Linked DNA regions of Homo sapiens: regions 2, 3 and 4 are each linked to region 1. Evidence: fine-mapped QTL for protein levels in blood plasma. A gene starts in region 1. Each other region holds a variant in brackets. All regions are shown on one strand. Distances are between the middles of the regions.

Region 1 (5,207 bases):
TTTTTGAGATGGAGTCTCACTCTGTCGCCCAGGCTGGAGTGCAGTGGCACCATCTTGGCTCACCGCAACCTCTGCCCCCCGGGTTCAAGCAATTCTCCTGCCTCAGCCTCCTGAGTAGCTAGAATTACAGGCGCACACCACCACACCAGGCTAATTTTTGTATTTTTAGTAGAAACGAGGTTTCACCACGGTGGTCAGGTTGGTCTCAAACTCCTGACATCAGGTGATCCACCCGCCTCGGCCTCCCAAAGCACTGGGATTACAGGAGTGAGCCACCATGCCTGGCCATATTTTAAACTTTTTTGTAGAGATGGGGTCTTACTATGTTGCCCAGGCTGATCTCAAACTCTTGGGCTCAAGCAGATCCTCCTGCCAAAGCTTCCCAAAGTAGTTGGATTACAGGTGTGAGCCACCACGCCCCACCAACCTATGAAGATGTCTAAGCAGACAGGGTGCCCTATCTCACCACATCCCCAGTCAGATCCAGAGGTGGGACAAGGATGGGAAGGAGGTTCCAGAACAAAGGCTGGCAGGGAGTCGTATGGGACAGGAGCTGACCCAGCAACCATCCACAGAGACATCCTGGAGCCTGGGAAGGAGAAGGACAAAGAGCCCCCTTTTTTAAATTTTTTTTATGTTTTTGAGACGGAGTCTCACTCTGTCACCCAAGCTGGAGTGCAGTGGCACAATCTTGGCTCACTGCAACCTCCACCTCATGGGTTCAAACGACTCTCCTGCCTCAGCCTCCTGAGTAGCTGGGACCACAGGTGCACACCACCATGCCTGGATAATTTTTGAATTTTTGGTAGAGACGGAGTTTCACCATGTTGGCCAGGCAGGTCTCGAACTCCTGACCTCAAGTGCTCCGCCCACCTTGGCCTCCCAAAGTTCTGGGAATACAGGCGTGAGCCACTGCAACCAGCCAGTAGCCCCCATCTTTGCCCCTCGCTGAGCCCTACTGGATGTTCTTGGTTATGCGACAGTTTCCCCATCTATTAAAGAGAAACCCCTATAGCAGAGGGGAGGATGAGGTTGGAAAAGCAGGAGCATTGTTATGCTATTCTTGTGGGGTCTGGGAAGCAGACATCTGGGTGGATGTTTGGGGGGTGCTGGGCTTAGTTGGGGAAGTAGGGGGGCCCCTGGGGCTGACAGGGACTGGAAGCTCTGAGCTGGCCAGAGGGATGTTGCAATCCTGCCAGGGTCTTGTCTATGCTGTCCTTTTCACAACCATCCCCCTACTGCCAGGCTGACACGTGGTTGCGGGGGCACAAGGCCAGCCAACCTAGAGTCTGAGGCTAGGCGGAGGACACCCTCCCCACCAGCTGCCAGGGTCACTGGCGGTCAAAGGCAGCTGGTGGGGAAGGCATTGGACTCCAGCCTTGGGGGACGGATGTAGTGATGGTGGGAAGCAGGCTTGGTGCCAGGAGGGGCGTCAGAGGGTGAATAAAAGCAGATAGAGTGTTTGGGGGAGGTAGCCAGCCAAAGGGGGTGAGGCCCGGTGGAAGGGAAGAAGGGACATACACGCAGAGCTTTGCAGCTGAGGGTTTTAATTTTTTGAGATGGGGTCTCTGTCCCACCAGGCTGGAGTGCAGTGGCACAATCACAGCTCACTGCAGCCTCGAACTCCTGGGCTCAAGCAATCTTCCTACCTCAGCCTCTTGAGTAGCTGGGACTACAGGCATGCGCCACCACGCTCGGCTAATTTTTGAACTTTTTTGTAGAGATGAGGTCTCCCTATATTGCCCAGGCTGGTCTCGAACTCCCAGGCTCAAGTGATCCTCCCTCTTCAGCTTCCCAAAGTGCTGGGATTACAGGCATGAGCCACCATGCCTGGCTAATGCAGGTGAGGTTTTTGCAGTGTCATCCAGCTAAGGCGACCCGTTCCCCTCCCAAAAAAGGGAGACTGAGAACCATGAAGTTAAGAGCCCAGAGAATATCACGGTGGTCTGGGGTGCTTCAAGGGCTGGTCTGGAATAAATTGGAGGTGGCACGCAGGGTAGGAGCGCCGGGCCAACTGGGAGACCCAGCAACATAAAGGAAAAGTTGTTGGGGCTGAGGAGGCTTGCTGAGAGAGGGGAAGTGAGGGAAAGAGGTGATCTAGGGACACGGTGTGAATGAGGGGGGGATGAGATCACAGGGTTATTACTGGGAGACCCCTGAGGGAAGATGGCCACAGGGACAGGACAAGGCTGTCTTCTTAAGGGAGGAGACCACCCCTCATATTGTCTTATGCCCAATTTCTGCCTCCAAAGAAAGAAAAAGTAAAAACTAAAAGGCAGAAATGAAATCCACAAGCAGACAGCCCGCGCCACACCCTGGGCCTGGTGGTTAAAGATTGACCCCTGACCTAATCCGTTAGGTTATCTATAGATTACAGACATTGTATAGAAAAGCACTGTGAAAATCCCTATTCTGTTTTGTTCCGATCTAATTACCGGTGCATGCAGCCCCCAGTCACGCATCCCCTGCTTGTTCAATCGATCACGACCCTCTCACGTGCACCCACTTAGAGTTGTGAGCCCTTAAAAGGAACAGGGATTGCTCACTCGGGGAGCTCGGCTCTTGAGACAGGAATCTTGCCCATTCCCCGAACGAATAAACCCCTTCCTTAACTCAGCGTCTGAGGAATTTTGTCTGCGGCTCCTCCTGCTACATTCTGAGTGGGGAAAGGGACTAAGGTGGTCTGAGGACCCCACAGAGTCAGGAAGATTGAGAGGTGAGAGTGCTGAACGGGGAGGGGCTTTGGGGCTAAGGGAAGTGCCCGGGACCCCACCTGACCCCAACGCTCACGGGACAGGGGCAGAGGAGAAAAACGTGGGTGGACAGAGGGAGGCAGGCGGTCAGGGGAAGGCTCAGGAGGAGGGAGATCAACATCAACCTGCCCCGCCCCCTCCCCAGCCTGATAAAGGTCCTGCGGGCAGGACAGGACCTCCCAACCAAGCCCTCCAGCAAGGATTCAGGTTGGTGCTGAGTGCCTGGGAGGGACACCCGCCTACACTCTGCAAGAAACTCAAAAAGGGAGATGAGGGGATCGTGGGAGGGAGGTAGGGAGGGAGGAGGGTGCCACTGATCCCCTGAACCCCTGCCTCTGCCTCCAGAGTGCCCCTCCGGCCTCGCCATGAGGCTCTTCCTGTCGCTCCCGGTCCTGGTGGTGGTTCTGTCGATCGTCTTGGAAGGTAAAAGTGGGATGGGAGAATTGCGGAGTTGGAGATTTGGAAGAGTGAAGGTGGCTACAGGCCTGGGGTCCCGGCTTAGAGGACCTCTGAGAGCTCCGGGGCCCCTTCTGGGTCGTGGTTGCCTCATCGTGGTCGGGTGGGTCTCCAGGTTCTCCCAGGCTCAGTCCCGCAGGCGCCAAATCTGCGCAGGAGAGCACTAGCAACCGATGACGTATTGAGGCCCACACCTCTGGGATTGGCTGTCCTGCTTCGACAGCCTTGAAAGTGGGTAAGCTGGGTGGGGGGCTCTGGGAGAGGTCAGTGCTGAGTAAGGCAATTCCCAGCAGCTTGAGCCCCACCAGGTCACTCCAGTATTCCTCCCCATTCTTTTTTTTTTTTTTTTTTTTTCTCTTGAGACGGAGTCTCGCTCTGTCGCCGAGGCTGGAGTGCAGTGGCGCGATCTCGGCTCACTGCAAGCTCCGCCTCCCTGGTTCACGCCATTCTCCTGCCTCAGCAGGACTACAGGCGCCCGCCACCGCGCCCGGCTAATTTTTTGTATTTTCAGTAGAGACAGGGTTTCACCGTGGTCTCGATCTCCTGACTTTGTGATCCGCCTGCCTCGACCTCCCAAAGTGCTGGGATTACAGGCGTGAGCCACCGCGTCCGGCCATTCCTCCCCATTCTAACCACATGATCCCCAAGGATCTCTATCCATCCCGGTATCCCAACCTAAGGGGGTTCCAATAACAAATTTTTGGCCGGGCAGGGTGGCTCATGCCTGTAATCCCAGCACTTTGGGAGGCCGAGGCGGGCAGATCACTTGAGGTCAGGAGTTCGAAACCAGCCTGGCCAACATGGTGAAACTTCGTCTCTACTAAAAATACAAAAAAATTAGCCAGGTGTGGAGGCACGCGCCTGTAGGCCCAGCTACTCGGGAGGCTGAGGCAGGAGAATCACTTGAACCCGGGAGGCGGAGGTTGCAGTGAGCCGAGATCATACCACTGCACTCCAGCCTGGCTGACACAGCAAGACTCCGTCTCAAAACAAAACAAAACAAAAATAGCTGGGTGTGGTGGTGCACACCTGTAATCCCAGCTACTTGGGAGGCTGAGGCAGGAGAACTGCTTGAACCCGGGAGGTGGTGGTTGCAGTAGGCCGAGATCATGCCACTGCACTCCAGCTTGGGCTACAGAGCAAGACTCCATCTCCAAAAAAAAAAAAAAAAAAACAAATTTTGAACCCCTGCCCATCTTCCTGGCAGGCCCAGCCCCAGCCCAGGGGACCCCAGACGTCTCCAGTGCCTTGGATAAGCTGAAGGAGTTTGGAAACACACTGGAGGACAAGGCTCGGGAACTCATCAGCCGCATCAAACAGAGTGAACTTTCTGCCAAGATGCGGTTAGAACCCTTCCCAGGGCACGGGAGAGCTGGGGTGTGTTTTTGGGTGGAGCCCTGGCAGATGGTCCAAGATGAACAGATTGAAAAAAAAACAAGTCCTGGAGAGGCTGACAACATCCCTCTGGTCACACAGCTAGATCTCAAGGTGCTCAGACTTCAAGGACAGTTTCCCTGACTCCCATCCAGGCCATATTTTAAAAGATGGTCTTGGGCTGGGCACGGTGGCTCATGCTTGCAATCCCAGCACTTAGGGAGGCCGAGGTGGGCTGATTGCCTGAGGTCAGGAGTTCGAGACCAGTCTGACCAACATGGTGAAACCTTGTCTCTACTAAAAATACAAAAAAATTAGGCAGGCATGGTGGCGTGCACCTGTAATCCCAGCTAGTCGGGAGGCTGAGGCAGGGGAATTGCTTGAACCAGGAAGGTGGGAGTTACAGTGAGCCAACATTGTGCCAGCCTGGGTGACAGAAGGAGACTCTGTCTCAAAAAAAAAAAAAAAAAAAAAAAAAACAAGATGGTCTTGCCCAGGTATGGTGGCTCACACCTGTAATTCCAGCACTATGGGAGGCTGAGATGGGAGGATTGCTTGAGCCCAGGAGTTCGAGACCAGCCTGACCAACATGGCGAGATCCTGTCTCCATTTAAAAAAAAAAAA
Region 2 (5,195 bases), 28 kb before region 1:
CCTGACCTCAAGTGATCCACCCGCCTCGGCCTCCCAAAGTGCTAAGATCACAAGCATGAGCCACTGCGCCCAGCCAATGCCAGCACTTTGGAAGGCCAAGGCTCTTGTTGCTAGTGGTTCGAGACCAGACTGAACATCAAAGTGAGACACCATCTCTAAAAAAATAAAACAAACAAAATTAGCCAGGCAAAGTGGTGCACACCTGTGGTCCAGCTCCTCAGGAGGCTGGGGTGGGAGGTCACTTGAGCCCAGGAGCTCAAGTCTGCAATGAGCTATGATCATGCCACTGCACTCTAGCCCAGGTGACAGAGCAAGACCCTGTATCTTAAAAAATAAAAGACTGGGCACGGTGCCTCACACCTGTAATCCCAGCACTTTGGGAAGCCAACCCAAGTAGATAACTTGAGCTCAGGAGTTCGAGACCAGCCTGGGCAACATGGCGAAACCTGTCTACAAAAAAAATACAAAAATTACCCAGACCTGGTAGCCCATGCCTGTAGTCCCAGCTACTTGGGTGGGCTGAGGTGGGGGTGGGGGCATGTGGAGGCTGCAGTGAGCTATGATCACACCACTGTACTCCAGTCTGGCCAACAGAGTGAGACCTTGTAAAAAAAAAAAAAGAAAAGAAAAATAGCTCAGAGCAGTCTGAGGTATGCGAGCTATGCAAAATTTGTTTTTTTGAGACAGGATCTCACTCTGTCCCTCAGGCTAGAGTTCAGTGGTATAATCTGAGCTCACTGCAACCTTCGCCTCCTGAGCTCAACCAATCTTCCTACCGCAGCCTCCCAAGTAAATGGGACCACGTACCACCACACCTAGCTAGTTTTTGTATTTTTGTAGAGACAGGGTTTTGCCATGTTGCCCAGGCTGGTCTTGAACTCCTGACCTCAGGTGATCCACCCACCTCAGCCTCCCAAAGTGCTCGGATTACAGGCGTGAGCCACCATGCCCAGCCTGGAATCTGTATTTACCACAAGCTCTCTAAGTTTTTCTGATGCACAGGAAGGTCTGTTACACCACTGTCTTAATCATCTAGTTAGTTCAAACCAATAACTTGCTGCTGATCTCCTCTGTGTGCAGCTCCATGCTGTGACCCACTGTGTCCGAGACGGCCTGGAGCTCACAATATGGAGGAGGAGACAAAACTGTCTCCAGATAGTGATGGTGTAGCATGACCAGTGATGGGATAGGGCAGTTGAGCAAGCTCTGAGAAGCCAGAGGGGGCATCTGACCCAGGCTGGATGGTCAGGTAGGGCTTCCTGGAAGAGGGGACATCTGAGCTGACAGAATGCATCGTAAGCACCTGTCATTACTGTATGCTTTGGTCTGTGGGTGTGTAGAATGAGGGACAGGAACTTTAACCTAATTTGAGGGACAGGAAGGCACTTCATTTATTCATTCATTCTTTTCACAAATATTTACTGAACTCCTCATAGTGGATTCTGGAGACACCTTGCTGACGACCCAGATCTTTCTTTTTTTTCTTTTCTTTTCTTTTCTTTTTTTTTCTTTTTGAGGTGGAGTTTCGCTCTTTTTTCCCAGGCTGGAGTGCAATGGCGCGATCTCGGCTCACCACAACCTCCACCTCCCGGGTTCAAGCAATTCTCCTGCCTCAGCCTCCTGAGTAGCTGGGATTACAGGCATGCGCCACCACGCCCGGCTAATTTTGTATTTTTAGTAGGGACAGGGTTTCTCCATGTTGGTCAGGCTGGTCTCACACTCCTGACCTCAGGTGATCTGCCCACCTCGGCCTCCCAAAGTGCTGGGATTACAGGCGTGAGCCACCACGCCTGGCTGATCTTTCTTTCTTTTTTTTTTTTTTTTTTTTTTAATTTGAGATGGCATCTCACTCTATTGCACAGGCTGGAGTGGAGTGATCTCATCTCACTGCAACCTCTGCCTCCCGAGTTCAAGCGATTCTTGTGCCTCAGCCTCCTGAGTAGCTGGGATTACAGGCGTGCACCATCATGCCCAGCTAATTTTTGTATTTTTTGGGGAGATGGCATTTCACCATGTTGGCCAGGCTGGTCTCGAACTGCTGACCTCAGATGATCCGCCCGCCTCAGCCTCCCAAAGTGCTGGGATTACAGGCGTGAGCCACTGCCCCCAGCCCAACACAGATCTTTTTTCCCTCCCAGAGCTCACAGTGGGGCATGGTAATTATAAATAACATTTCAAGTACAAATTCAGTAAGTGCCCTGAGGGGGAAGTACAGCTAGGTATGTCCGTGTAACAGGAATTCCTGATCCACTGGGGAAACCTGAAGGCTTCCGGGAAAAAGAGGAATTCATGGAATGAATAAAAACTCTTACTCCAGGCAAGAAAAGGGGGCAGGGGAAAGGGAGACCCAGGTAGAGGGAACAGCATGTGCCATAACCCCGGAGTCAGAGGGATGCCTGGGTCTTAATCTCCACTTGTCCTACCTCCTACCCCACAGCCTGGAGGGACCTCCCTCCTACAAGCCACC[G/A]ACCCCAAAAGCGAAGCTGGAGGCACAGGAGATGGTGAGCACTTTCCCTGGAGCCCAAGCTATCCCCACCTCCACACCCACCCCAGGGCTGGGAGGGGCCTGGCAGGGAGAAGCTGGCTGGGTGGTGGGGGCAGTTCCTGACCTCCCCGCCCCTCTCCCACTACAGCCCTCCCAGCTCTTCACTCTGGGGGCCTCGGAGCACAGCCCACTCAAGACCCCCTACTTTGATGCTGGCGCCTCATGCACTGAGCAGGTAGGAGCTCATGGGAAGACAAAGGTGGGTTGGGGGTCTGGGTTGAAGGGCCAGGGGTCAGGCCTGGCAAAAGAGGTCAAAGACTAAAGGTCATAACTCAAGGTCAAGGGTGTGTCCCCGGTTGGTGCTTAATGCATTGAGATGTGTTCAGGATTCCATGGGGGAGGTCAGGGGTGAAAAGGCCCAAGGTCACAAGGTTAGAATTTAAAGTCACTTGGGGGCTGGGCACGGTGGCTCACGCCTATAATCCCAGCACTTTGGGAGGCCAAGGCAGGAGGATCACTTGGGGTCAGGAGTTCGAGACCAGCCTGTGCAACATGGTGAAACCCCGTCTCTACTCAAAACACAAAAAATTAGTTGGGTGTGGTGGTGCGAGCCTGTAATCTTAGCTACCCGGGGCGCTGAGGAGGAAGAATCGCCTGAACCCAGGAGGCCGAGGTTACAGTGAGCTAAGATCACACCACTGCACTCCAGCCTGGGCAACAGAGCAAGATTCCGTCTCAAAAAAATAAATAAAACCAAATAAATAAAATCACCTGGGCCGGGCATGGTGGCTCTGGTCTATAATCCCAGTACTTTGGGAGGCCAAGGTAGCTGGACCCCTTGAGCCTAGGAGCTCGAGACCAGCGTGGGCAACATGGGCTACCCAGCAACATTTTGCGTCTACAAAAATACTGAATTTACCTGGATGTGGTGGCAAATGCCTGTAGGCTGAGGTGGGCGGATTGCTTAAGCCCAGGTGGTTGGGGCTGTGCCACTACACTCCAGCCTGGGCATCAGGGTGAGACCCTATCTCAAAAAAAAAAAAAAAGAGGAAAAGTCATTAGGTCAATGAAAATTGATTATCTGGTCAGGCATGGTGGCTCACACCTGTAATCCCAGCACTTTGGGAGGCTGAGACGGGCAGATCACCTGACGTCAGGAGTTCCAGACCACCCTGGCTAACAAGGTGAAACCCCTTCTCTACTAAAAACAAAAATAAGCCAGGCATGGGTGACATGCTCCTGTAATCCCAGCTATTCAGGAGGCTGAAGCAGGAGAATCGCTTGGACCCAGGAGGCAGAAGTTGCAATGAGCTGAGACCACGCCACTGCACTCCAGCCTAGGCAACAGAGCAAGACTCCGTCTCAAAAAAGAAAAAGGCCGGGTGCGGTTGCTCACGCCTGTAATCCCAGCACTTTGGGAGGCCAAGGCAGGTGGATCACCTGAGGTCAGGAGTTCCAAGACCAGCCTGGCCAACATGGTGAAACCCTGTCTCTACTAAAAATTACAAAAATTAGCTGGGCGTGGTGGCGGGCGCCTGTAATCCCAGCTACTTGGGAGGCTGAGGCAGGAGAATCGCTTGGACCCGGGAGGCAGAGGTTGCAGTGAGCCCAGATTGCACCATTGCACAACAGCCTGGGAGACAAGAGCAAAACTCCGTCTCAACAACAAAAAAAAACAGAATGAAAGAAAATTGATTATCTACATTTGCTGGATACTGTGCCTGAAGCTGGGACAAGACAAATCAAGTCACTCCCCTCAGTGGTCTACTGGAGGTCAGGGGTCAGACACTGAGGTTGCGCTCAAGGTTCAAAGGACTGTTTAGAGCCCAAGGTTAAGTATTTGAGGTCAAGACTGAGGTGAAAGGTTCATGGGGAAAGATTTGCAGAGATCGAGTGTCAAAAGTGAGTCCCAGGATTAACAGGGTGAGTTGCACGAGCTGGGCTTTGGGTTAAGGAAGGGCTGAATGAATGTCCCAGTGCAATATGGCCTCAGGGGACAAGGAGTGAGGTGGCATCTTGTTGGCATGGGGAGAGAGCGGTCAGGATTTTGGGGTCAAGAGCAGATTGGTAATCTGTGTCGTGCGTAGGAAGTGATCTTGAGTTCCTGTCCTCTCTCTACCTCCAGGAAATGCCTCGATACCATGAGCTGCCCACCTTGGAAGAACGGTCAGGACCCTTGCACCCTGGAGCCACAAGCCTGGGGTCCCCCATCCCGGTGCCTCCAGGGCCACCTGCTGTGGAAGACGTTTCCCTGGATCTAGAGGATGAGGAGGGGGAGGAGGAGGAAGAGTATCTGGACAAGATCAACCCCATCTATGATGCTCTGTCCTATAGCAGCCCCTCTGATTCCTACCAGGGCAAAGGCTTTGTCATGTCCCGGGCCATGTATGTGTGAGCTGCCATGCGCCTGGCGTCTCACATCTCACCTGTTGATCCCTTAGCTTTCTTGCCAAGGATCTAGTGCCCCCTGACCTCTGGCCAGGCCACTGTCAGTTAACACATATGCATTCCATTTGTGATGTCTACCTTGGTGGCTCCACTATGACCCCTAACCCATGAGCCCAGAGAAATTCACCGTGATAATGGAATCCTGGCAACCTTATCTCATGAGGCAGGAGGTGGGGAAGGTGCTTCTGCACAACCTCTGATCCCAAGGACTCCTCTCCCAGACTGTGACCTTAGACCATACCTCTCACCCCCCAATGCCTCG
Region 3 (5,207 bases), 74 kb before region 1:
AGGGGTAGGGGGGCACACCTGTAATGCTAGCTACTGGGGATGCTGAGGCATGAGAATCACTTGAACCCGGGAGGCGGAGTTTGCAGTGAGCCAAGATCACGCCACTGCACTCCAGCCTGGGCAACAGGGCGAGACTCCGTCTCAAAACAACAACAAAAATAAACATGAGAAGCTAGATGACTGTAGCTGGCTGATCACCTGCTTGGCAGCCACAGCTTTTACCTGTGTCTTGGGCTTGGGACTCATGGAGCAGAGTGGGTGTCGCCCACAGGACGCATGAATGCTTGGAGCTTACTGGATCCCTGCATCCCTCCCATCTGTGTTCAGCTCACATTCTTAGTATGTCTAACAGGTCTCATGAGTTGCTTTTTTTTTTTTTTTGAGACGGAGTCTTGCTCAGTTGCCCAGGCTGGAGTGCAGTGGCGCGATCTCAGCTCACTGCAACCTCCGCCTCCCGGGTTCAACTGATTCTCCTGCCTCAGCCTTCCGAGTAGCTGGGATTACCGGCGGGTGCCACCACGCCTGGCTAATTTTTTGTATTTTTAGTAGAGACAAGATTTCACCGTGTTCGCCAGGATGGTCTCGATCTCCTGACCTCATGATCCGCCTGCCTCAGCCTCCCAAAGTGCTGGGATTACAGGTGTGAGCCACCACGCCCGGCTTGAGTTGCTTCTTAATATCCATCCTTCATTTCACCTGTCTGTGTCCTTATTTATAGGGCTCTTGTTCCCTATATAACAGAATTGAAAATTCCCTTTAAAAAAATACAGCAAATGCACACAGAGGATCAGAGGATGGAGGGGAGAATTTGATGAGATAACCAGGGAAGTATTTAGTACAAAGCCTGGCACAGAGTCCATGTGCAGTACATGTTAATTATTGTGATTATCTAAGGAAAAATAAAGAGACACAGAGAAAAGCAAAAAGGTTGCCTTAGGCCAGGTGCGGTGGCTCACACCTGTAATCCCAGCACTTTGGGAGGCCGAGGCAGGCAGATCACCTGAAGTCATGAGTTCGAGACCAGCCTGGCCAACATGGTGAAACCTTGTCTCTACAAAAAAAAAAAGACAAAAATTAGCTGGGCATGGTGGCACGCGCCTGTAATCCCAGCTACTCAGGAGGCTGAGACACAAGGATCACTTGAACCCAGGAGGCGGAGGTGGCAGCGAGCCGAGATCACACCACTGCACTCCAGCCTGGGTGACAGGGCGACACTCTGTCTCAAAAAAAAAAAAATAAAGGCCAGGTGCGGTGGCTCACGCCTGTAATCCCAGAACTTTGGGAGGCCGAGGCAGGCAGATCACCTGAGGTGAGGGGTTCGAGACCAGCCTGGCAAACATGATTTAGTAGAAACCCCGTCTCTACTAAAAATACAAAAATTAGCTGGGCGTGGTGGCAGGCACCTGTAATCCCAGCTACTCGGGAGGCTCAGGCAGGAGAATCGCTTGAACCCGGGAGGCGGAGGTTGCAGTGAGCCGAGATCACACCATTGTACGCTAGCCTGGGGGGACAAGAGCGAGACTTCGTCTCAAAAATAAATAAATAAATAAACAAATAGGCTGGGCGCAGTGGCTCACGCCTGTAATCCCAACACTTTGGGAGGCCAGGCGGGCGGATCACGAGGTCAGGAGATCGAGACCATCCTGGCTAACACGGTGAAACCCTGTCTCTACTAAAAATACAAAATATTAGCCAGCATGGTGGCAGACGCCTGTAGTCCCAGCTACTCGGGAGGCTGAGGCAGGAGAATGGCGTGAACCCGGGAGGCGGAGCTTGCAGTGAGCCGAGATCGCGCCACTGCACTCTAGCCTGGGCAACAGAGCGAGACTCCATCTCAAAAGTAAAATAAAATATAATAAAATAAAATAAATAAAATACAAACACTCCCTTAGTCCAGGGCAGGGACCAGATACAGAGATACCACTCTAAAGGCAGACATTGGTGTTGGGGTTTGGTGAGTTGGATGGCGAGTGAACAGATGGCTAGTGGGAAGGGAAAGAGAAGAGGAAAGGGTTCTCCATCCAGTACCTGGTCCCCAAGTTAATGAGTGGAGGATCCCAGCCTGCCCCACCAGGAGGGAATACATTTGCATAAGGTCCCTCATCTGCATGGCATCCCAGGGAATTTGCATAGAGATGGCAGCCTGGGGCCACATCAGTATGACCCCTCCTCCCAAGGGTTGAAACTCCAGCCTACATTACAAAGGCCTAGGGCAATAGGAAAGTGGGAGGGGTGAACCTCAGGATCTGGGGCTCCAGGAAGTAAAGAGAAGTTGGTAGTAAACTACCCTTGCTCTTTAACCTTCTGTGGTTCCCAGAGCATGAGCCGCCCTTCAGCTGGCATTCTGGACCTTCTAAGATACTGACCCTCACATCCCCTGCTCCCGCTGTCACCACCCTCCTACCTGGAATGCCCTTCCCCATATCCCGTGCTGTGACAAAGCTTGCCTATTCTTCAAAGCCTGGACATCCTGAAGAATTCTGAAAGCTTTCACCACCAGCCCCTCCTTGCCCTGCCCTTGGAAATTTACAAAGCTCTGTGCATCTCCCAGACATGTACAGATTTTTTGGGGTATATAGTTTATTAGTAAGGTTATATTTGATTGCAAATGACTATATATATATATATATATATATATATATATATATATATATATACACACACACACACACACACACACACACACACACATAGTCTCATACATATATATATATATATAGTCTATACATATATATATAGTCTCATATATATATATATGTATACCAGGAGTCATGTCTCATGCTTGTAATCCCAGCAGTTTGGGAGGCCAAGGCAGGAAAATTGCTTGAGCCTAGGAGTTCAAGACCAGCCTGAGCAACCTAGTGAGAGCCTGTCTCTACAAAAAAGTCAAAAGATGAGTCTGGCAGGCCGAGCACGGTGGCTCACGACTGTAATCCCAGCACTTTGGGAGGCAGAGGAGGGCAGACCACTTTAGGTCAGGAGTTCAAGACCAGCCTGGTAATATTGTGAAACCCCGTCTCTAATAAAACTGC[G/A]AACATAGCCAGGCGTCGTGGCCCAAACCTGTAGTCCCAGCTACTTGGGAGGCTGAGGCAGGAGAATCACTTGAACCCAGGGGGCAGAGGTTGCAGTGAGCCAAAATCACACCACTGCATTCCAGCCTGGGCAACAGACTGACACTCCGTATCAGAAAAAAAAAAAAAAAAAAAAAGATTGGCCGGGTGCGGTGGCTCACGCCTGTAATCCCAGCACTTTGGGAGTCCGAGGCGGGCAGATCACAAGGTCAGGAGATTGAGACCATCCTGGCTAACAAGGTGAAACCCCATCTCTACTAAAAATACAAGAAATTAGCTGGGCATGGTGGCGGGCGCCTGTAGTCCCAGCTACTCGGGAGGCTGAGGCAGGAGAACGGCGTGAACCCAGGAGGCAGAGCTTGCAGTGAGCCAAGATCGCTCCACTGCACTCCAGCCTGGGCAACAGAGCAAGACTCCGTTTCAAAAAAAAAAAAAAAGATTATTCTGGCACAGTGGCGAATGCCTATAGTCCCAGCCACTTGGGAGGCTGAAGTGGGAGGATTGCTTGAGCCTGAGAGGTGGAAGCTTCAATGAGCCATGATTGTACCACTGCACTCCAGTCTGGCCAACAGAGCATGACCCTGTCTCAGAATAAGAGCCGGGTATGGTGGCTCACGTTTGTGATTCCAGCACTCTGGGAGGCCGAGGCAGGCAAATTGCTTGAGCCCAAGAGTTCAAGACCAGCCTCGGCAACAACCCAAAAACCCATCTCTACAAAAAAATAGAAAAATTAGCCAAGCATAGTGGCACATGCCTGTAGTCCCAGCTACTCGGGAAGTTGACATGGAAGGATCCCGAGCCAGGGAGGTCATGGCTGCAGTGAGCCATGGTAATGTCACCACACTCCAGCCTGAGCGACAGAGTGAGACCCTGTCTTAATTAAAAAAAAAAAAAAAAGACTGAGGGGAGGAAGTGGTTAGGGGAGCTGCTGCTGCTGCTAAAAGAAAGGAAAGGTTGCCAGGCAGGTAAAATACTTGGCATCAGCTCCATAGCTCCGTCAGGAAGCCTTTGCCCCTACCTATGCCCCTACCTTCTAGTGGTTATGGCTCTTCAGTGAAGTGCCACCTCTGGGACTCCTTGACACTAAAAGTCAACTCCCCAGGCGGGCGTGGAACCCACCCAGTCATTTGTCACCAAACTTGGTGCTCAGCCTCATGCTTGTGACCCAAGGGTGTGAAACTCCAGCCTACACCTCTGGGGCATTTTTTTCTTTCTTTTTTTTTTTTTCCTTTTTTTTTTGGCAGAGCCTTGCTGTCACCCAGGCTGGAGTGCAGTGGCACAATCTTGGCTCACTGCAACCTCCACCTCCCGGGTTCAAGCGATTCTCCGGCTTCAGTCTCCCAAGTAGCTGGGATTATAGGCACCCGCCACCACATCCTGCTAATTTTTGTATTTTCAGTAGAGACAGGGTTTCACCACGTAGGCCAAGCTGGTCTCAAACTCCTGACCTCAGGTGATCCATCTGTCTCGGCCTCCCAAAGTACTGGGATTACAGGCTTGAGCCACCATGGCCAGCCTCCTGGGGCTTTCTTCCTGGGCTCATCCCTGCTCACAAAGAACAGCCAGGAGAGAGCTAAGCCCACTCATTCGTAGGCCAGGAGAAAGGAGGTGCTAGAGGCCTTCCTAGAAGAAGACTTCCTGGGGACTGGTTCTTTTGTTCAATGGATAAACGGGGGTCCCAGGATTTTGCAAAGCAAGTTAGTAGCAAGGCTGGCACTAAAACCCAGAGGTCCTGGTCCACAAACCTGGCCTCAGATTGGGGAGAGAAGGTCAGAGAGATCTAAAGCACATTTATTGCCAGGCGCGATGGCTCACACCTGTAATCCCAGCACTTTGGGAGGCTGAGGTGAGAGGATCACTTGAGGGCAGGAGTTCAAGACCAGCCTGGGCAACAAAGCGAGAATCAAATTCTACAAAACATTTAAAAATGCACCGAGCAGCCGGGCACAGTGGCTCACGCCTGTAATCCCAGCACTTTGGGAGGCCGAGGCAGGTGGAGCACGAGGTCAGGAGATCGAGACCATCCTGGCTAAGACCATGAAACCTCGTCTCTACTAAAAATACAAAAAATCAGCTGGGCGTGGTGGCAGGCACCTGTAGTCCCAGCTACTCGAGAGGCTGAGGCAGGAGAATGGC
Region 4 (5,207 bases), 13 kb after region 1:
TAATTTTTTCTATTTTTGACAGGGACGGGGTTTCACCATGTTGGTCAGGCTGGTCTAGAACTCCTGACCTCAAATGATCCACCCACCTAGGCCTCCCAAAGTGCACAGATTACAGGCGTGGGCCACCGCACCTGGCCAAATTTTTAATTTTTTTCTAGAGATAGGGTCTTACTGTGTTGCCCAGGCTGGTGTCAAACTCCTGGGCTCAAGCAGATCCTCCTGCCTCAGCTTCCCAAAGTGGTGGGATTATAGGTGTGAGCCACTGCGCCCAGTCAGTAGCCCCCTCTTTGCCCCTCACTGAGCCCTACTGGATGTTCTTGGTTGTGTGACAGTTTCCCCATCTATTAAACAGAAACCCCTATAGCAGAGGGGAGGATGAGGTTGGAAAATCAGGAGCATTGTTATTCTATTCTTGTGGGATCGGGGAAGCAGACATCTGGGTGGATGTTTGGGGAATGCTGGGCTCAGTTGAGGAAGTAGGGGGGCCCCTGGGGCTTACAGGGACTGGAAGCTCTGAGCTGGCCAGAGGGATGTTGCAATCCTGCCAGGGTCTTGTCTATGCTGTCCCTTTCACAACCATCCCCCTACCGCCAGGCTGACACGTGGTTGTGGGGGCACAAGGCCAGCCGAACTAGAGTCTGAGGCTGGGCTGAGGACACCCTCCCCATCAGCTGCCAGGGTCACTGGCGGTCAAAGGCAGCTGGTGGGGAAGGAATTGGACTCCAGCCCTGGGGGACGGATGTGGTGATGGTGGGAAGCAGGCTTGGTGCCAGGAGGGGCATCAGAGGGTGAATAAGAGCAGATAGAGTGTTTGGGGGAGGTAGCCAGCCAAAGGGGGTGAGGCCCGGTGGAAGGGAAGAAGGGGCATACACTCAGAGCTTTGCAGCTGAAGGTTTTAATTTTTTGAGATGGGGTCTCACTCTGTCTCACCAGGCTGGAGTGCAGTGGCGCAATCACAGCTCACTGCAGCCTCGAACTCCTGGGCTCAAGCAATCTTCCTACCTCAGCCTCTTGAATAGCTGGGACTACAGGTGTGCGCCACCACGCTCAGCTAATTTTTGAACTTTTTTGTAGAGATGAGGTCTCCCTATATTGCCCAGGCTGGTCTCTTAACTCCTGGGCTCAAGTGATCCTCCTTCCTCAGCTTCCCAAAGCGCTGGGATTACAGGCATGAGCCACCATGCCTGGCCAATGCAGGTGAGGTTTTTAGTGTCCAGCTAAGGCGACCCCTTCCCTTTGCAAAAAAGGGAGACTGAAAATCATCAAGTTAAGAGCCCAGAGAATATCAGGGTGGTCTGGGATGTTTCAAGGGCTGGTCTGAAAGAAATTGGAGGTGGCACGCAGGGCAGGGTTGCGGGGCCAACTGGGAGGCCCCAGCAACATAAAGGAAAAGTTGTTGGGGCTGAGGAGGCTTGCTGAGAGAGGGGAAGTGAGGGAAAGAGGTGATCTAGGGACACGGTGTGAATGAGGGGGGGATGAGATCACAGGGTTATTACTGGGAGACCCCTGAGGGAAGATGGCCACAGGGACAGGACGAGGCTGTCCTCTGAGTGGGGAAAGGAGCTATGGTAGTCTGAGGACCCCCCAGAGTCAGGGAGATTGGGAGGTGAGGGTGCTGAATGGTAAAGGGCTTCGGAGCTAAGGGAAATGGTCAGGACCCCACCTGACCCCAACGCCCACGGGCCAGGGGCAGAGGAGAAAAACCTGGGTGGGCAGAAGGAGGCAATCTTCCAGGGGAAGGCTCAGGAGGAGGGAGATCAACATCAACCTGCCCCGCCCCCTCCCCAGCCTGATAAAGGTCCTGCGGGCAGGACAGGACCTCCCAACCAAGCCCTCCAGCAAGGATTCAGGTTGTTGAGTGCTTGGGAGGGACACCCGCCTCCACTCTGCAAGAACTCATAAAGGGAGATGAGGGGATCGTGGGAGGGAGGGAGGAGGGTGCCACTGATCCCCTGAACCCCTGCCTCCGCCTCCAGGGTGCCCCTCCGGCCTCGCCATGAGGCTCTTCCTGTCGCTCCCGGTCCTGGTGGTGGTTCTGTCGAT[C/G]GTCTTGGAAGGTAAAAGTGGGATGGGAGAATTGCGGAGTTGGAGATTTGGAAGAGTGAAGGTGGCTACAGGCCTGGGGTCCCGGCTTAGAGGACCTCTGAGAGCTCTGGGGCCCCTTCTTGGTCGTGGTTGCCCCATTGTGGTCGAGTGGGTCTCCAGGTTCGCCCAGGCTCAGTCCGGCAGGCGCCAAATCTGCCCAGGAGAGCCCTAGTAACCGATGACGTATGGATCTCCACACCTCTGGGATTGGCTGTCCTCCTTTTATAGCCTTGAAAGTGGGTGATGGGGCGATGGGCTGTGGGAGGAGGTCAGTGCTGAGTAAGGCAATTCCCAGCGGCTTGAGCCCCACGCGGTCACTTCAGTATCCTCCCCATTCTAACCACATGATCCCCAAGGATCTCCTTATCTATCCCCGGGATCCCACCCCAAGGGGGTTCCAATAACAAATTTTTGGTGGGGCGTGGCGGCTAATGCCTGTAATCCCAGCACTTTGGGAGGCCGAGGCGGGCAGATCACTTGAGGTCAGGAGTTCGAAACCAGCCTGGCCTACATGGTGAAACCCCATCTCTACTAAAAATACAAAACAGCCAGGCGTTGTGGTGCGCGCTTGGCTACTTGGGAGGCTGAGACAGGAGAACTGCTTGAACCTAGGAGGCGGAGGTTGCAGTAAGCCGAGATCGCACCATTTGACACAGCAAGTCTCCGTCTCAAAACTACAACAACAACAACAACAACAACCAAATTTTGCACCCCTGCCTCATCTTCCTGGCAGGCCCAGCCCCAGCCTAGGGGGCTCCAGAAGTCTCCAACCCCTTTGATGGCCTGGAGGAGTTAGGAAAGACCCTGGAGGACTACACTCGGGAATTCATCAACCGCATCACACAGAGTGAACTTCCTGCCAAGATGTGGTTAGAACCCTTCCCAGGGCACGGGAGGGCTGGGGTGTGTTTGTGTGGAGCCCTGGAGGATGTCCAAGATGAACAGATTGAAAAAAAAAACAAGTCCCAGAGAGGCTGACAGCATCCTTCTGGTCACACAGCTAGATCTCAAGGATCTCAGACGTCAGGGACAGTTTCCCGGACTCCCATCCAGGCCACATTTTAAAAGATGGTCTTGGGCTGGGCGCCGTGGCTCACACCTATAATCCTAACACTTTGGGAGGCCTAGGCGGGCGGATTGCCTGAGATCAGGAGTTCAAGACCAGCCTGGCCAACATGGTGAAACCCTGTCTCTACTAAAAGTACAAAAAATTAGCCTGACATGGGGGTGTGCACCTGTAATCCCAGCTACTCGGGAGGCTGAGGCAGGGGAATTGCTTGCACCAGTAAGGTGGGGGTTACAGTGAGCCAAGATTGCACCACTGCACTCCAGCCTGGGCAACAAAGCAACATTCCGTCACAAAAGAAAAAAAAAAAAGATGGTTTTGCTTAGGTACGGTGGCTCACACCTGTAATCCCAGCACTGTGGGAGGATTGCTGGAGCCTAGGAGTTTGAGACCAGCCTGGCTAACATGGCGAGATCCTGTCTCTATTTTTTTTTTTTTTTTTTTGAGACAGAGTCTCGCTCTGTTGCCCAGGCTGGAGTGCAGTGGCGCCATCTCGGCTCACTGCAACCTCTGCCTCCCCAGTTCAAGCAATTCTCTGCCTCAGTCTCCTGAGTAGCTAGGATTACAGGCGCCCACCACCACGCCCGGCTAATTTTTTTGTATTTTTAGTAGAGATGGGGTTTCACCATCTTGGCCAAGCTGGTCTTGAACTCCTGACCTTGTGATCCACCCGCCTCAGCCTCCCAAAGTGCTGGGATTACAGGTGTGAGCCACCATGCCCGGTGATCCTGTCTCTATTTAAAAAACAAAACAAAACAAAACAAAACAAAAAGCATACAAGCCAGCCCCGGTGCGATAGCTCATGCCTGTAATCCCAGCACTTTGGGAGGCTGAGTCGGGCAGATTACCTGAGATCGGGGGTTCGAGGCCAAGTTGGGCAGATCACCTGAGGTTGGGAGTTTGAGACCAGCCTGACCAACATGGAGAAACTCCGTCTCTATTAAAAATACAAAATTAGTCAGGCATGGTGGTGCATGCCTCTATTCCCAGCTACTTGGGAGGCTGAGGCAGGAGAATCACTTGAACCTGGGAGGCGGAGGTTGCAGTGAGCTGAGATAATGCCATTGCACTCCAGCCTGGGCAATAAGAGCGAATCCACGTCTCAAAAAAAAAAAAAAAAATTGAAAAAAAAAAAGATGGTCTTGTGGGGTAATGAAGGACACAAGCTTGGTGGGACCTGAGTCCCCAGGCTGGCATAGAGCCCCTTACTCCCTGTGTGATCTTAAGAGAGAGGCATTACTGTGAGCCTCAGTTTCCTTTCCTGTGAAATGGTGGTTCTGTGGGGAAGTAAAGCAGAAGGCCTATAGGGTGTCTGGCACATTGTAAATGCTCAGTACATCTTCAAATCCACACTTGCTCCCTTTGGCAAGTTAGAGAGTCATTCGTTCCTCAACACATATTTATTGAGCATCTGCTAAGTGCTAGAAACTGTTTCAATGTGGGGAATAAAACAGTGAAGAATATGCCGAGCGCGGTGGCTCACACCTGTAATCCCAGCACTTTGGAAGGCTGAGGTGAGTGGATCACTTGAGGTCAGGAGTTTGAGAACCCCATCTCTACTAGAAATACAAAAAATTACCCAGGCGTGATGGCACACACCTGTAGTCCCAGCTACTTCGGAGACGGAGGCAAGAGGATCACTTGAGCCCAGGAGGTTGAGGCTGCAGTGAGCTATGTTTGTGCCACTGCATTCCAGCCTGGGTAACAGAATGAGACCCTGTCTCATCCAAAAAAAAAAGAAAGAAAGAAAGAAAGAAAGAAGGAAGGGAGGGAGGGAGGGAGGGAAAATCTAGTCAGGCCTAAACTTAGAAAGATTGTTTGGAGGCCAGGTGCAGTGGCTCATGCCTGTAATCCCAGCACTTTGGCAGGCTGAGGCGGGCAGATCACCTGAGGTCAGGAGTTTGAGACCAGCCTGACCAACAAGGAGAAACCCTGTCTCTTCTAAAAAAAAAATACAAAAAATTAGCCAGGCATGGTGGTGCATGCCTGTAATCCCAGCTACTCAGGATGATGAGGCAGGAGAATTGCTTGAACCTGGGAGCTGGAGGTTGCGGTGAGC

Direction of the effects. Positions count from the first base shown, and alleles are read on the strand shown. Strength reflects both the effect of a copy and how common the allele is. Not every link is listed here.
For the plasma level of the protein whose gene starts at base 2,835 in region 1, allele G in region 2 goes with a higher level than allele A (strong association).
For the plasma level of the protein whose gene starts at base 2,835 in region 1, allele G in region 3 goes with a higher level than allele A (moderate association).

Evidence for each region. PIP is the posterior inclusion probability: the model's chance that the variant is causal. Protein levels are from antibody-based Olink assays in UK Biobank. Linkage for the fine-mapping came from a reference panel and not from the study's own genotypes, which makes the PIPs less certain.
Region 2: its variant is fine-mapped to the plasma level of the APOC1 protein (UK Biobank, PIP above 0.99).
Region 3: its variant is fine-mapped to the plasma level of the APOC1 protein (UK Biobank, PIP above 0.99).
Region 4: its variant is fine-mapped to the plasma level of the APOC1 protein (UK Biobank, PIP above 0.99).

What each region holds. Positions count from the first base shown.
Region 1 is chr19:44,911,774-44,916,980 of GRCh38, forward strand. APOC1 (apolipoprotein C1) reads left to right here and starts at 2,835. Exons shown (of 4, transcript NM_001645.5): 1 at 2,835-2,960; 2 at 3,099-3,176; 3 at 4,417-4,552. The coding sequence starts at 3,119. RefSeq lists enhancers at 871-1,630, 2,389-3,148, 3,149-3,906 and a promoter at 1,848-2,974.
Region 2 is chr19:44,883,500-44,888,694 of GRCh38, forward strand. NECTIN2 (nectin cell adhesion molecule 2) reads left to right here. Exons shown (of 9, transcript NM_001042724.2): 7 at 2,438-2,501; 8 at 2,634-2,720; 9 at 4,611-5,195. The coding sequence ends at 4,880. Among named protein-coding and RNA genes, the nearest start is that of TOMM40, 5.2 kb to the right of the region's middle. RefSeq lists enhancers at 1,251-1,750, 2,070-2,570. The variant G/A (reference allele first, on the strand shown) is at 2,468.
Region 3 is chr19:44,837,290-44,842,496 of GRCh38, forward strand. No RefSeq gene overlaps it. Among named protein-coding and RNA genes, the nearest start is that of NECTIN2, 6.4 kb to the right of the region's middle. The variant G/A (reference allele first, on the strand shown) is at 3,033.
Region 4 is chr19:44,924,980-44,930,186 of GRCh38, forward strand. It overlaps the pseudogene APOC1P1. Among named protein-coding and RNA genes, the nearest start is that of APOC1, 13 kb to the left of the region's middle. RefSeq lists an enhancer at 2,363-3,255. The variant C/G (reference allele first, on the strand shown) is at 2,044.